Regions from separate parts of the Homo sapiens genome. Here region 2 is linked to region 1. A link means that fine-mapping ties the variant in region 1 to the expression of a gene that starts in the linked region. Tissue or cell type: whole blood. Region 1 holds a variant in brackets; the other region holds the start of a gene. All regions are shown on one strand. Distances are between the middles of the regions.

Region 1 (8,216 bases):
CTTCTGGACATTTCATATCAATGAAATCATACAGTGGCCAGGTGCGGTGGCTCATGCCTGTAATCCCAGCACTTTGGGAGGCTGAGGCAGGTGGATCGCTTGAGCTCAGGAGTTTGAGACCAACCTGGGCAACATGGCGAGCCCCTGTCTCTACCAAAAACACAAAAAAGATTAGATGGGCATGGTGGTGTGAGCCTGTAATCCCAGCTACTTGGAGACTGAGGTAGGAGAATCTCTTGAGCCCAAGAGACAGAGGTTGCAGTGAGCTGAGATCACGCCACTGCACTCCAGCCTGGGCAACAGAGCGAGGCCCTGTCTCAAAAAAAGAAGAAAAGAAATCATACGGTATATGACCTTGTATGACTGGCTCATTTCACTAAGCAAAATGTTTTTAAGGTTCATCATGTTATAGTGCATATGAGACTTTATCCCTTTTAATGGCTGTTACACTCTATAGATATAACACATTTTATTTATTCATTTGTTACTGACAGACATTTGGTTTGTTTCTACCTTTTGGCTATTATGAATAACACTACTATGAATATTTGTGCCCAAGTTTTTGTGTGGACACGTTTTCATTTATCTTGGGTATATATACCTAGGACAAGAATCGCTGTCAAATAGTAACCCATGTTTAACTTTTCAAGGAATTACCACCATTCTTCAAAGCAGCTGCACCATTTTACATTCCTACCAGTAATGCATGAAGTTTTCAGTTCTCCATGTCTTCATCAACACTTATTACAGTCTGACTTCTTTATCAATTTGCATTTCTCTGATGACTAATGGTGTTGAGTACATTTCTATGTGCTTATTGGCCACTTGGAGAAATGTCTATTCAGATCCTTTGCTCATTTTAAACACTTGGCTTATCTTTTCCTTTTTTTTTTTTTTTTTTTTTTGAGATGGAGTTTCGCTCTGTTGCCCAGCTTGGAGGGCAGTGGCTCAATCTCGACTCACTGCAACCTCTGCTTCCCGGGTTCAAGCAATTCTCCTGCCTCAGCCTCCTCAGTAGCTAGGATTATAGGCGTGCACCACCACGCCTGGCTAATTTTTGTATTTTTAGTAGAGACGGGGTTTCACTATGTTGGCCAGGCTGGTCTCGAACTCCTGACCTTGTGATCCGCCTGCGTCGGCCTCCCAAAGTGTTGGGATCACAGGCGTGAGCCACCGCACCCGGCCTCATTTGTCTTTTATGTGTTGAGTTGTAAAAGTTCTTTTTATGTTCTAGATACAAATCCTTTATCAGACATATGACTGGCAAATATTTTCTCCCATTCAGTGGATTGTCTTTTCTTTTTTTTATGGTATCCTTTGATGCAGTAACATTTTATGTTTGTTGTTGTTGTGTTTGAGACAGGGTCTTGCTCTGTTGCCCAGGCTGGAGTACAATGGTGCAATCATGGCTCACTGCACCCTTGACCTCCTGGACTCAAGAAATCCTCCAGCCTCAGCCTCCCAAGTAGCTGGAACTACAGGCATACGACCACACCTGGCTAATTTTTAATTTTTTTTAGAGACAAGGTCTCACTATGTTGCCCAGGCTGTCTCAAATGCCTTCGCTCAAGTGATCCTCTTGCTTGGCCTCCCAAAGTGCTGGGATTACAGGCATGAGCCACCAAGCATGGCCAAGTTTTAAATTTTGATGAAGTCCAGTTTTACGTTTTTTCTTTTATTGTTTGTGCTTTTGGAGTTGTAGCTAAGACTCTATTGCCAAATCCAAGGTCACAAAGATTCAAACCTGTATTTCGTTCTAAGAGTTTTATTAGTTTTAGCTCCCACATTTAGGTATTTGATCCATTTCAAGTTAATTTTATATATGGTATGAGGTGTAGGTCAAACTTCATTCTTTTGCATGTGGATATCCAGTGTCCCAGCACCATTTGCTGAAAAGACTATTCTTTCCCTCATTGAATAGTCCTAGCATTCTTGTCAAAAGTCAATTGACCGTAATGTATGCATTTATTTTTTTTTTCGAGACAAAGTCTCACTCTGTTACCCAGGCTGGAATGCTACCCAGGCTGGAATGCAGTGGCATGATCTCGGCTCACTGCAACCTCCACCTCCCGGGTTCAGGCAATTCTCATGCCTCAGCCTCCCAAGTAGCTAGGATTACAGGCGTGTGCCACCACAACTGGCTAATTTTTTTGTATTTTTAGTAGAGACGGGGTTTCACCATGTTGGCCACGCTGGTCTCAAACTCCTGACCTCAGGTGATCCACCAGCCTCGGCCTCCCAAAGTGCTAGGATTACAGGCATGAGCCACCACACTCAGCCTGTATGCATTTATTTCTGAACTCTCTATTCTGTTCCATTAGTCTGCATGTCTACCTTCATGCCAGTACCACATGTCTTGATTACTGTTGCTTTGCTGAAAATTTTGAAATTGGCAGTGAAATTCCTTCAGCTTTGTTCTTCTTTTTCATGATTGCTTTGGTTATTCTGGGTCCCTTGAGCTTTTGATTTTCAACACAAAATAAGGTTTGCTTTCTGTTTTTAACAATAAAGCTGACTTATCTTTGTATTTGATTCTACCAAGCTATAAGCCCTGACACACTGCTATATTTCTGGAACTTACAATGGTGTTTGGAATGTAGGTAAAAACTGAGCAAATACTTGTGGAATTAATGAAGGTATAAAGAAATAAACAACAAACCAAGGAATTCTCACATTGAATGTCACTGTTCCTATCTTTTTTTTTTTTTTTTTTTTTTTTGAGAGGGAGTCTTCCTCCATTGCCCAGGCTGGAGTGCAATGGCGTGATCTTGGCTCATTGCAACCTCTGCCTCCCAGGTTCAAGTGATTCTCCTGCCTCAGCCTCCCGAGTACCTAGGATTACAGGTGTCCACCACCATGCTTGGCTAATTTTTGTATTTTGTAGTAGAGATGGGTTTTCACCATGTTGGTCAGGCTGGTCTCAAACTCCTGACCACAGGTGATCCACCTGCCTTGGCCTCCCAAAGTGCTAGGATTACAGGCATGAGCCACTGCGCCCAGCCTGTTCCTATCTTCGTTCTCAAGTTCCTTGAGGGAAAGACCACAACTTGGGATTCTCTGTCCTTGGCACCCAGGACAGCTCAGCAAATGCTCATTAGCTGCCTGGTCACAGGGACTGGTGGTCCATTCATTCATTCAAGGCACCTGATATGGTTAGGCTTTGTGTCCCCACCCAAATCTCATCTTGAGTTGTAACCCCCACAATGCCCACATATCAAGAAAGAGACCAGGTGGAGGTAACTGAATCATGGAGGTGGTTCCCCCCATGCTGTTCTCGTGATAGTGAGTGGGTTCTCATGAGACCTTATGGTTTTATAAGGAGCTCTTCCCCCTTCGCTCAGCACTTCTCCTT[C/T]CTGCCGCTTTGTGAGGAAGATGCCTTTTCTCCTTCCACCATGATTGTAAGTTTCCTGAGGCCTCCCCAGCCATGCTGAACTGTGAGTCAACTAAACTTCTTTCCTTTATAAATTACCCAGTCTTAGGCAGTTCTTTTTAACAGTATGAAAACGGACTAATACAGCACCCCTGCTTGCTGTTTATTAAGCACAAAGCAGTTACGCCATCATGTGAGACACACACAGAGGAAAAACCAGAGTATGTTTTTCCTTTTCTCTACTCACCACAACACAGAACACACCTGTGACCCTGGATGCATGTGGGTTTTTCCCCACACACCAAGCAAGTAATTCTGCAGTGAATTCTCCAGTGAACACCAGCTCCATGCTCTCTAATTCAATTCAATTATTTCACTAGCTACCTGGAGATAGCATCATATCCCACAGGTCGAGGGCTCGTTCACACGAGGCTGCCCTCCCTCCAACTTCAGACACCAGTCACAAGCACAGGTTGTGGCCTGTGCTTCTGGCTGATCACTATAAATCGGGGTTCCTACAACCCCCTCCTTGGGTTGCATTAGTTTGCTACGGCAGCTCACAGACCCAGAAAAAACACTTCACTTACATTTACATATTTACTATAAAGGATATTACAATAAATACAGATGAAGAACTGGATGGAAGAGATACACAGGGAGGGGCATGGGAGAAAGGGCAGGAGTTTCCATGCCCCCTCCAGATGTGCCACCCAGGAACCTCCATGTGTTCAGCTAGACAGAAGCTACCAGAACTCAGTCATTCTAGGTTTTCTTCTTTTTGCTTTTTTTTTTTTTTTTTGGTTTTGTTTGTTTGTTCTTTGAGTCAGGGTCACACTCTGTCACCCAGGCTGGAGTGCAGTGCAGTTGCATGATCACAGCTTACTGCAGCCTCAACCTCCAGAGCCCAAGCGATCCTCCCACCTCAACCTCCCGAGTAGCTGGAACTACCGGCACGTGCCACCACATCTGGCTAACTTTTTTTTGTATTTTGTGTAGTGACAGGGTTTTACCATGTTGCCCAAGCTAGTCTCAAACTCTTAGGCTCAAGCGATCCACCCACCTGGGCCTCCCAAAATGCTGGGATTACAGGCGTGAGCCATCATACCTGGCCTGTTTTAGGTTTTTGTGGAAGCACCATTACACAGTTGCGATTGATTAAATCATCGACCATTGGTTTATTCGCTCTATTTTCAGGCTCTCTCCCTCCCTGGAGGCGGCATGGGGGTTGGGGCTGACAGCAACCCTCTGATCACATGGTTGGTTCCCCCTGGCAACCAGCCCCCCATCCTGAGGCTATCCAGGGTCCCACCAAGGAACAAAAGAGACTCTCCTATCACCCAAGAAATTCCAAGGGATTTAGGAGCTCTGAGTCAGGACCAGGATCAAAGATTCTCCTAGCACCTGTATTGCTCAAGAAATTACAAGGGTTTTAGAAGCTAAATGCTAGAGACTAGGGGCAGAGACCAACATGTATATTTCTTATTATTTCACATATTGGTTGGTTGTTTTTTTAATAACAGTTTTATTGAGATATAATAATATAGCATACAATTTTTACCCATTTTAAAGTGAAAAATTCAGTGGTTTTCAGCATATTTACAGAGTTGTGCAACCATCACCACTATCTAATTTTAGAAAATTTTCATCATCCCAAAAGAAATTCCATACCCATTAACAACCATTCACCATTTCCTCCCAACCTCCCTATCTCCCAGCAACCACTAATGTACTTTCTGCTCTACAGATGCCCCTATTCCAGACATTTCATATAAGTGGAATTGTATAATATTAGGTCCTTTGTGTCTGGCTTCTTTCACCCGGCATAAGGTTTTCAAGGCTCATCCATGCTGTAGCGTGGATCAGTACCTCATTCCTTTTTATGAACCGATTATATTCCATTATATGTATATATCACATGAAGCCACTGGTTTTAAATTATTTGTGGTCCAAAGGAAAGAGAGAGAACAAGGGAGAATGCTGGGAAGCAGGTGTCATAGATTTGGTGGAAATTCTGACCCCGACTTTGTGGCATTGTTCAAATCAATATAGAATTTTCTTTGGGCTCCCATTGGAGTCCTAACTCCAACAGTACTTTACACCACCACTAGGTTAAAAAATTGAATTCAGCCGGGCGCAGTGGCTCATGCTTGTAATCCCAGAACTTTGGGAGGCTGAGGCGGGTGGATCACTTGAGGTCAGGAGTTCGAGACCAGCCTGGCCAACATGGAGAAACCCTGTCTCTACTAAAAATACAAAAATTAGCTGGGTGTAGTGGTAGGTGCCTGTAATCCCAGCTACTCAGGAGGCTGAGGCAGGAGAATCGCTTGAACCCAGGAGGCGGAGGTTGTAGTGAGCCGAGATCATGCCACTGCACTCCAGCCTGGGCAACAGAGCAAGACTCTGTCTCAAAAAAAAAAAAAAATTGAAATAACTGAAAAAATTGAATTCAGTATGAAGTAGCTCCTCGCAGGTGAGTCACTAGAATATCAGAAACATTTTATTTGACCATCCATCAGCTAACATTCACTGAGTCTTTCTGTACCAATCACTAAGTGCTTATACGTATCCTTTTATTTTCAATCTTCACAACCCTATGAAGTCAGTACTGTCAGGATGCCCATTCTACAGATGAGCAAGTAAAGGTAAAGAGGGGTTAGATAACTTGCCCAAACGCACAACCAGTAAGTGGCAGAGTCAGCATTTGAATCCGAAGCCATAATGTATAACCATGAAAACTGCCTCCTGGACAGAACTCAGGGACAAGGATCCCCAAGGAAAGTGGGGGCCAGAGAGAGACTTCAGCACATCAGGAATGGCTACACTTCTTTTCTGGGGCTCTTCAACTTCCATGATTCCTTATAGCTTTGGGTTTTTTTGTTTTGTTTTTTTTGTTTTTGTTTTTGTTTTTGAGACGGAGTCTCACTCTTGTTGCCCAGGCTGGACGGCAATGGCGCGATCTCGGCTCACTGCAACCTCCGCCTCCGGGGTTCAAGCGATTCTCTTGCCTCAGCCTCCCCAGTAGCTGGGATTACAGCCACCCACCACCACGCCCAGCTCATTTTTTGTATTTTTAGTAGAGACGAGGTTTCACCACCTTGGCCAGGTTGGTCTCAAACTCCTGACCTCAGATGATCCGACTGCCCTGGCCTCCCAAAGTGCTGGGATTATAGGCGTGAGCCACCGTGCCTGGCCTAGCTTTGGTTTTATTTATTTATTTATTTATTTATTTATTTATTTAATTTTGAGACGGAGTCTCGCTCTGTCGCCCAGGCTGGAGTGCAGTGGCGTGATCTTGGCTCACTGCAAGCTCCACCTCCCAGGTTCACATCATTCTCCTGCCTCAGCCTCCCAAGTAGCTGGGACTACAGGAGCCCGCCACCACGCCCAGCTAATTTTTTTTTTTTTTTTTTTAGTAGAGACGGGGTTTCACTGTGTTAGCCAGGATGGTCTCGATCTCCTGACCTCGTGATCCGCCTGCCTTGGCCTCCCAAAGTGCTGGGATTACAGGCGTGAGCCACGGCGCCCGGCCAGCTTTGGTTTTATTTTGCTTCATTCTCTAATGAAGACAGTGAAAGCTCAGTCTGATAAACAACTATAAACCACTTGTGCATAGGGGGAAAAGGGGCACAAAAGCAAATACTACACTGAGATGAAATGATCGGTACTTTTTATTTTAATATTTTACTTAATTAATTTGCTGTTTTAATGTTCACCTAAACATTTATTTATTTCATGTTTTTGTTTGTTTGTTTTTTTGAGATGGAGTCTCACACTGTTGCCCGGGCTGGAGTGCAATGGCGCAATCTTGGTTCACTGCAACCTCCAACTCCCGGGTTCAAGCAATTCTCCTGCCTCAGCCTCCCGAGTAGCTGGGTCTACAGGCATGCACCACCACGCCCAACTAATTTTTGTATTTTTTAGTAGAGACGGAGTTTCACCATTTTGGCCAGGATGGTCTCGATCTCTTGACCTTGTGATCCGCCCACCTCGGCCTCCCAAAGTGCTGGTCCTATACGCTGCCGGGCAAAAGACACTGAGGAATGATGTCTGTTAAGGACAACAAGATAACTGATAAACTTTCCTGGATGTCCAGCATCTCTTTAGATAACTACCCTCCCATTTTTCACCTATGAGGTTGGAAGTGGGGCTGAATCCCCACTCCAGCTCCAGGGGTACCAATGCGTAATCCAGGCATGGGATCCAGGGGCATCCCAAGTCACCCATCTTGTCCATCGTGATTGGTTCAGGATGGGCACATAACCCAAGTAAGCCAATCACAGCCCTCTCCAAGACCATCACAGGTCCATGGGGAGCAAGGCCTGCTCTTTGCACAGAGATCGCTGGCTATAAGGGGAGGGGTCAGCCTAGGGCTGCAGGGGCCGTCCCTGCCACTGTAAGAGGAGAGATGGCCTATGAATGAAGCCAACACACAGGAAAGGAGCTGACTGAACTAGTAAGAGACAGATGAATCCCTAGATACAGAAGTCAACTCACAGCGAGACTTCCCAGTTATAGGAAACTAGAATTCTCTTTTTTTCTTAAACAAATTTGAGTCAGATTTCCTTCAGCTACAACCAGAAGGTTTCCAGGTTAGTTCAATATTCTTTGTCAGGAAATGAATCCCCCAAATACCCACTTGCCCTCCATAACAAAAGGGACCTATCAGTCCCTTTTACCTCGGGTTGGCTCCCTGATTCAGAGCTGTCGTGTCCAGTCACCCCCTTGCAGAGGTACTGGAGCTGTAGCCTGTGGTCTCACCCACATTTTATGTGGCTAGCTCAGGGGTTGGGGGTGAGACAGCCTGCCTTGGCTTGCCCCTTTTCTCTGCCTCCTTCCCCTGTAACAT
Region 2 (8,000 bases), 34 kb after region 1:
TGCCTATGTCTTCTCCGGAGAACAGTAGGAGCGTGGGAGCATGGCACAGCTTGGCCAGATGTGAAAGCACCTCACAGACACCCTGCCTGCCAGTTTATTCCTTCATGACATTCCCAAACTATCCAACCAGATAAAGTGATGGGGCTTCTCTTGGGAGAAACCCTAGGAGTATCTAAGGTAGGAAAGGCAGGGATTATAAAGTCAAGATTCACCAAGAAGCTCTCACTGAATATTTGTACAACATCAGAATTGAGAGGTTATGAGACACTTCTCATAATTTTCTTTCTTCTTTTTTTTTTTTTTTTTTTGAGACAGAGTCTCGCTCTATCATCCAGCCTGGAGTACGGTAACACAATCATAGCATCACAGCTCACTGTTTTGGGATCAATCTTTTGGGCTCAATGAGCCTCCTGAGTAGCTGTGACTACAGGTGTGTGCATGCCACCAAAGCAGGCTAAAAAAAATTTTTTTTTAAGATGAGGTTTAATTTTGTTGCCCAGGCTGACTTTTCATAATTTTTTCTTTTTTTTCTTTGCCACTGCAAGAACCCACAGATTTTTCATAATTTTCTTTTTTTTTTTTTTGAGACAGAGTTTCGCTCTGTTGCCCAGGCTGGAGTGCAGTGGCATGATCCTGGCTCATGCAACCTCCGCCTCCCCGGTTCAAGCAATTCTCCTGCCTCAGCCTCCCGAGTAGCTGGGACTTCAGGTGCATGCTACCACGTCCAGCTAATTTTTGTATTTTTAGTAGAGACGGGATTTCACCATATTGGTCAGGCTGGTCTTGAACTCCTGACTTCGTGATTCACCTGCCTCAGCCTCCCAAAGTGCTGGGATTACAGGCATGAGCCACTGTGCCCAGCCAGATTTTTCACAATTTTCTAACTATCACCTCTCTCACCCCTGAGCAATAATGAATGGGCATTTTTTTTTTTTTTTGAGACGGAGTTTCGCTCTCGTTGCCTAGGCTGGAGTGCAATGGCGTGATCTCGGCTCACCGCAACCTCTGCCTTCCAGGTTCAAGTGATTCTCCGGCCTCAGCCTCCCAAGTAGCTGGGATTACAGGCATGCGCCACCACACCCAGCTAATTTTGTATTTTTAGTAGAGACGGGGTTTCTCCATGTTGGTCAGGCTGGTCTCGAACTCCCGACCTCAGGTGATCCACCCGCCTCAGCCTCCCAAAGTGCTGAGATTACAGGTGTGAGCCACTACATCGGCCTTTTATTTATTTATTTATTTTTAATGCTTGCTTTTGCAGCTGGAACACATAGGCTCTAAGGAATGTACCTTGGGCAACCCTTTAATTGCTAAGCCTACTCTCCCCTGTCTTCCTGGGTCAAGTACTCAAGGACTCCTGAGTTCGGCCATTGGACAAATCACACTCTCTTCAACAGCACCCATTAACCAATTTATGCAGATGCCGTCTGGATAATGGGGTTCCAAACTGGGAAGTCAGACACCTGAACTGTTTCAACCCAGGATATATTTTTATGGAGTTGAATTATTGATGTGCCTCAAGGCAATGAGGAAAGAAATGACACCCTTTTCATGATCACCTACTAGTGGAAATCACTTAGCGTTATGGGGATCTCGCCCAGAGAAAATCCACTGGCATTTGCTCACCATTCTGACAAGCCTGGAGGAAAGGAAGTCTAATCTTTCTTTAGAAGCCAAGTTCTGACCTTCCTGGACCCATCTTCCCTTTCTAAACAAACAGAGCACTATGCAATCCTTCACCCTGCTCCAAGCTCCTAATGGCTAAACCGAGTGGAAGAAGCTGGCGAGATGAGATGCGTGTTTAAAGTTACTTAGAGGTCAAAGAACCCAGCCTCTAGCTGCAGAACTGGCAGATGTCTGGGATTCTGATGAATGGAATCCTTCACAAGCACACATATGCCTCCCTTTCCTCCTACAGGCACTAGAAGAGTGAAAGGAATATATGTGTTTTGTGCTTAGCTCAGCCTAATGCCAGTACACCCTCTTCAACAGCACCCATTAACCAATTTATGCAGATGCCGTCTGGATAATGGGGTTCCAAGCTGGGAAGTCAGACACCTGAACTGTTTCAACCCAGGATATATTTTTATGGAGTTGAATTATTGATGTGCCTCATAGGCAATGAAGAAAGAAATGACACCATTTTCATGATCACGTTTGGATTCTAAGCAATCCCAAAAACTTCCCCGGCATGGTCCCCAGCTTCCCTTCTCCTACCTCTGGCTCTGAGGGCAAGAAGATAGATGAGAGTTACTGAGGGATGCCAGGTCTGTCTCCAGAGCCCCGGAGGCTGCCTACAGCTGGAGGGCTGAATCATCATGGCTGCCCACGCTGGGGGGGAACCATCCTCAGCAGGTCCCTGCTGGGAGGCAGGCAGAGTCCAGCCCCACAGGAAGAACAGGGGGTCCCGCACCTTCACCTAGCCTTTCCTATGGTGAGTGGTACGTGGAAAGAGCTGGTCTCTAAGAAATCCTGGGCCCCAGAAGAGCAGATGTGGTCCCCAGCATCTGCACACTTGGGCAAAACTGAGTAGGTCACTGGAGCAAGTACCCACTATGTCACTGTCCTTAGAAGGCCCAGGCTGGAGTGCGGTGGCGCAATCATAGCCAGGACCACACCCACAGATGGCTGTGCCACACAGTCCACTATGCAAAATGAGTGGACCCCCTGGCAGGAATCCACGTACTCCCCTATAGAAAGCAGCATAGGAAGTCCGTGGTGAAATGCAAGCAAACATCTTGTTTTTAAGAATCTCCTTGACAAATAATATCTGGTGGAAACCTTGGCCTTAAGACCTTCCTCCAGCAAGGTTCTCGGGGAAGAGAAGGGAAGAACATCAGAATCCCAAACTCGGAGTGAGGAGGGATGGAAGGGTCAACTGAATCACACACTCAGGTACCTACGGGGGCCTAGGAGATAGACTGTGCATCCATAGATGTGAATTGAGCCACCCACAGGAGTGGAGAGCTCTGGGCCCACCCTAGACACTGTATGTCTGAGAAAACATGTCCCACTGAATGGAGTCCAAACCTCAGCCCAGCTCAGCTGCTGGAGGCCACCGGCAGCCAACAGCCAGCAGTCTGTTGTGGGTGGTGGTGGGTGTGGACACTGGAGGTTTACAAGGTCACCCAGGCACCCCCCAGCCCAGCAGCCCACTGTCTTGAGCTATAAAGGACACCACGTGCAGGAGGACAGTGAACTCTTGGCTTCAGGAGGCCTGTTCTGGGCACTTCTTGCCATGCCGGGAGAACTGTCTCCCTGGTCCAATGGGAAGAACATCAGTGATGCACAACACCACTAGAGAAAACTCATGAAATGCACACACCCGCACGCACAGCTCCCAGGTCAGTGGCCAGAGGGAAGCTCCAGGGTGCTCCATAGGAGCAAGTGTTTCGAGTGCCACGGTTTGACAACCCCAGAGTGCTTAAAGCCATAAAGAGCAATGGCAGATGGCATTCCCAAGCCTATCTCCTACCTACCTCACTCCCGGTCCCCACCCACCATGGGATCCAAGATCACGGCAGGGTCCCCAGCGGCTTTGTCTCTCAGTACCCACTCCCTCCTGGAAGCTGACCTCCAGGAGGACCCTGGTGAAGTTCCTGGGTGGAGGCACTGGGAGACCTGGATCCCCCTGACTGGCTCTGCCTCTAACTCACTGGGTGACCTTGATAAGGTCGCTGCCCTCAGTAGGCCTGTTTCCTATGGTGCCAGATGAGGGAGTCATCTTAGATGCACAGGAAGAGGATGGAACACCCTATGGCTTGCCGGGCAGAAAATCAAGGCCTGTCACTCCTGCCTTTCACCTGTAGAACTCCACCTGTCTGAACGCCAAAGTCAAGATGACTTTGCCAGTCCATCCCAGCTAACCCCAGCAATAACGTCACCACGTTCAGGGTGGGTGGGCCTGGAGCCTGTACCAGACCTGGCACTGATAAAACGGGCGTCTTTCCCTACAGCTTAGGCTGTTTCTTTAAAATATGGTAGCACAGCTGGCAGAAGAGACAAATACACCTTTAAGACCTGCCAGCGGACAGTATTTTACACTAAGATGTCAAAGGCAACAACACCTCAGGACAGGAGGATGCATGCGTCCAAGTGCTAGAACAAGCATGCCACAGGCGTCCACCCAACTCAAATGACCAGTCGCTTATTTGAGCTCCTGTGCTGGCTAGAAATTACAGCTTAAGAGGAATAAAAAATTCCATTCAGACGTGCCGCTCCAGACACGAGGCCTATGAGCAAAGTTTCCGGTGGCCTCGCCGCCCCTCCCCGTTCCGGGAAGCCGGGCGGGTCACCTCGTCCTCAGATTAACGAGCAGCTCAAACAACTGGGAGAGCCCGGCGACAGCTTCTCCGGGGCACCCGACACCCTCCGCCAGGAACCCCAAATATGGGAGGCCTGGCCTCCAGCCAGCACCCCCGCCTGCTGCTCGATCACCTCCCCAGCATCTCCATGATCACACCTCCTCCCACGGCGCTCGGACCCTCCCGAACAGGCCCTGCGGAAGGGCCCACCGGCCACCTCCCCGCACAGCCCGGGGGCCTATCTGACATCCAGGGCCCGTTTCAAGGACACTGCAGCAGGCAGCCCGGTCTCGGGGGTCTTCCGCCCGATTGCCCCCCTCCCAAAAACGCACACACACAGAGACACTGACAATGCCGGTAGAATCGAAGGCGAAGGCTTTCCTTGCGCCCTGCAGTCCAACTCGATGCTGGCCCGGAGAAGGCCGGGCGCCGGAGGATGGAGGCAGCGGAGGCGGCGAGCGGATGCCGGAACGCAAGGCTGCGGCCAGGACCAGCGGCGGCGCGGGCGGGGGCTCACCTTTTTGACCTGGTCATCCTTCAGCTCCGTGAAGTAATAGGCCAGGAGCTGCGCGGCGATCATGCTGGCGGTCGGGGTCGCGGGGCGGCAGGCGTGGGGACGGTCGGTCCTCCGCAGCCCTGGCGAGCCGTGGTCCTCCGGCGGCTGCTCGGCGGCTCCTCCTCCTCCTCCTCCCCCGGCTCCTCCCCCTCGGCCCGGGGCGCGGCGACAGCTCGCGCGCTCCCGGTCTCCGCGCTCCCGTCCCCTGGAGGGTGACAGCCGCCAGCCGACCCACCTCCTCCACGCCCATTGGTTGCGGCGCGCCTCTGCAACGCCCGGCGGTGGCGTCCCGGCCGGGGAGCGGGGACGCGGCGGCCGCTCCCTCCTGCGCCGGAAAGGGGGCGGGCGACGCAGCGAAATCCCCCCCGACCCCGCATCATCCTGCACGTCCCCCACGTAGGGAGCCGATGCGGGCCTTCACGCGTGGCGGCGCCGTGCCCGGGTGGGCCGTGCCAGGCGGGGAGGTGCGAGGCGCAGGCAGGAGGCACCGCCCGGCTCCGCCGGGACGAGAAGCCCCTAGGGCTAGTCTAGGGACTGGCAGCCCCGGGGGCACGAAGGCGGTCCCATTCCTCGGAAATGAGGGCTCGCCCCTAGGAGTCCGGTGGACGCCGAGGTGCCGGAGGGGACTTGCAGAAGTGGGCGTGGAAAGCGGGCGGAAGCGGGAGCCGGGGACGCTACGCAGTCCTCGCACCCGGGTCCCGCGCCTTCCTCACCCAGGCCGAACGCACCGGCCTACCTGGGTCTTCAGCGGCAGTGCATCACCTCTCCCCGGCGTGCCCCGCCTAATCTCCAGCTGGCAGATTTGTATTGCTGAACCCAAAGCGACACCCCAGAGCACCCGCCCCCGAGTCACCAGCTCCGGTGGCTCTCCCTCAGGGCGCACTCCCTCTGGGCGGGACTTGGGCCACAGGTCGTGGCCTGTCCCCATCCTCTGGGCCTCCTCTTGCTCTTGGGCATCCAGGCCCACTGGGACTTGGGGCACGGTTCAGCGCCCCTTCCCAGGTGCCGTGTTTTCTACTTTCCCAGAGGAAGTTACGTAGGATGGGAGGACTCCCTAGAGGTGCTACCAGGACAGCCACTTTAGGATTCTTAGATTAATTATTTCTGTGTTCCGGAAGCCTCCAGGAGCTTTAGTGCCTTACAAAATGACATGTAATGAGCTCAAATATACAAACAAGTTGTTGCTATTCTGGTTAGACAGGTAAGGAAATTGAAGCTCAGTGAGGCCTCAGTCTTGCTGGACTTTATACAGCCAGGAAGTTGTAGATCTAGGATCACAGCTTGGATCTGTGAGTCTTTGAAGCAGGTGCTCACCTCTAGGGTTTGCTGTGGTCCCAGTTGTATAGAGCCCCTCTGCCTAAATAGGTCACTTTCCTGCAACCAAGTCTGCACCATATGGTGCCCTGAGATCCAACCCCCAACCTCTACCCTAGCTCTTGACTTTAGGAGTCCCTAGCCCTTGACCAGGCCTAGCAAAGGTACAGTCAAATCAGAGGGAGGGATGACGTAGGTTCAGGGGCCTGACAGCCACCATCACCCACAGAAAAGGAGGAGCTTAGATGCAGTCCTGAGGCCCCAGCTTCCTGTCCAGGTCACAGTCCCCACCCCCTGCCTTAGGGCCTATGCAGAGGGGCATCTTGAATCACCTCTGAGACTGTGTCTTCATCCATAAGATGAAGACACTAATGCCCACCTCACCTCCCCTTGATTGTTGTGTAATACTGTACGCAAAATACGTGCACATAATACACACTTAAGGAATGGCAGGTATCATAGAACTGACTGAAAAGTTAATGCGGTTAAAGCTTCAGGGACTCTCACTTTCATTCCTACCCTTCTAGGCCCTGGGAGGGCCTAGCAGTGTGATATTTGTATATTTATATTTGAATTATTTTCCATAGAGAGTGCCAATTTATTTAATTTTCAAGCCCAACAAAACCTGGATTTGCCCTGGATCATAATTATAAACCAGGAAGAGAGAGATTTTCTGGTACACATCAAACATTTGGAACTACCTACATGGCCGTTAAGCAAAATGGAGTGAATGAGAACAAGATGGTTGTTCTCAACTGCCATTTCATTTGAGTTCTGCAGATCTGCCAAGCTCACAGGGCTGGAAACTCCTTGAGGATGGAGGACTATGTTTTGCTAATTGCTCTGTCTCCTACACAAGCGCAGGGCCTGGCACTTGGCAGGCTGAATAAGCCTAATGCATAATCAAAAACATGGCCCTTAACCCAGCCACCAGCCGGTGCCATCACCCATGCCCAACCCGTTGTTACAACTCCTATCTGAGCTGGAGCCAGGGAGAAGCTGACGCTTGGAAGAGCCAGGTTACCCTGAAATGTCCTGTTTGCAGGCAGGAAAGCTGCCTCTGCTTTGTCTTCCCTGGCCTTTGAGAGGGAAACTGCTTCTCAAGGTGACTCATTCCTCCCCACTCCATGAATGCAACCAGGCCCCAAGGCCTGTCAATATTTCCTGAGAAATGTCTCTAGGCCTGACCTATTGCCACCTCCCAACTCCCAGTCCATCTCCCTGTGCCAGAAATATTACAAGAGTCTTCTAACTGTCCTCCTCGGCTCCTGGCCTCATGCCATCCAAGTCATTCTGAGCACCAGGTCACATTAATCCTGCTAAAATGCAGCATAATCATGTCATGACCCTTCCCTAAATCCCTTCATGGCCCTCTCCTTCCTGAGAGAGCCAATTTAAACATCTCTGCCTGGTTTCCGAGGCCTTCTGTAATCGACTCCACTCTTTCCCACTTATCTCTTCCTCCACTCTGGCCGCAACAAGGCCACTTCCCACCATCCTCTGCCCCCACCATGTCCACTCCATTTGTTCGCCGCTCATATTCCCTTCCTTGCCCTGCCTTCTCCACTCACCTCTGCCTGACCAAGCATCCCCTCTCATCTAAGGCCCAGCTTGCCAACCTTCCCTGGACCACAGCTACTCACCCCAATCTCCCAGGCCTCAGCACCTCGACAGGGCAAACTCAGGCTGTGCTCACAGTCCATCTGGATATACACCCAGACTCCTCTTTACAGGGCAGGAACCTGGGATGCCACAGGTGGGCCATCTTGCCCAGTGTCAGGTTGTGGTAGAGTTTTGAGCCAGGACTCCAGCCTAGTCCTGATGCCCAG

What was found. PIP is the estimated chance that this variant, and not a neighbour inherited with it, causes the effect.
Region 2: it holds the start of HK1, and the variant in region 1 is fine-mapped to the expression of HK1 in whole blood (INTERVAL, PIP above 0.99).

What each region holds. Positions count from the first base shown.
Region 1 is chr10:69,349,572-69,357,787 of GRCh38, reverse strand. The region is part of intron 2 of HK1 (hexokinase 1); the gene reads right to left. Among named protein-coding and RNA genes, the nearest start is that of HK1, 35 kb to the right of the region's middle. The variant C/T (reference allele first, on the strand shown) is at 3,353.
Region 2 is chr10:69,315,829-69,323,828 of GRCh38, reverse strand. It overlaps HK1 (hexokinase 1), which reads right to left and starts at 4,982. Exons shown (of 18, transcript NM_000188.3): 1 at 4,819-4,982. The coding sequence starts at 4,881. RefSeq lists enhancers at 1,897-2,813, 4,399-4,448, 5,739-5,968 and a silencer at 4,749-5,428.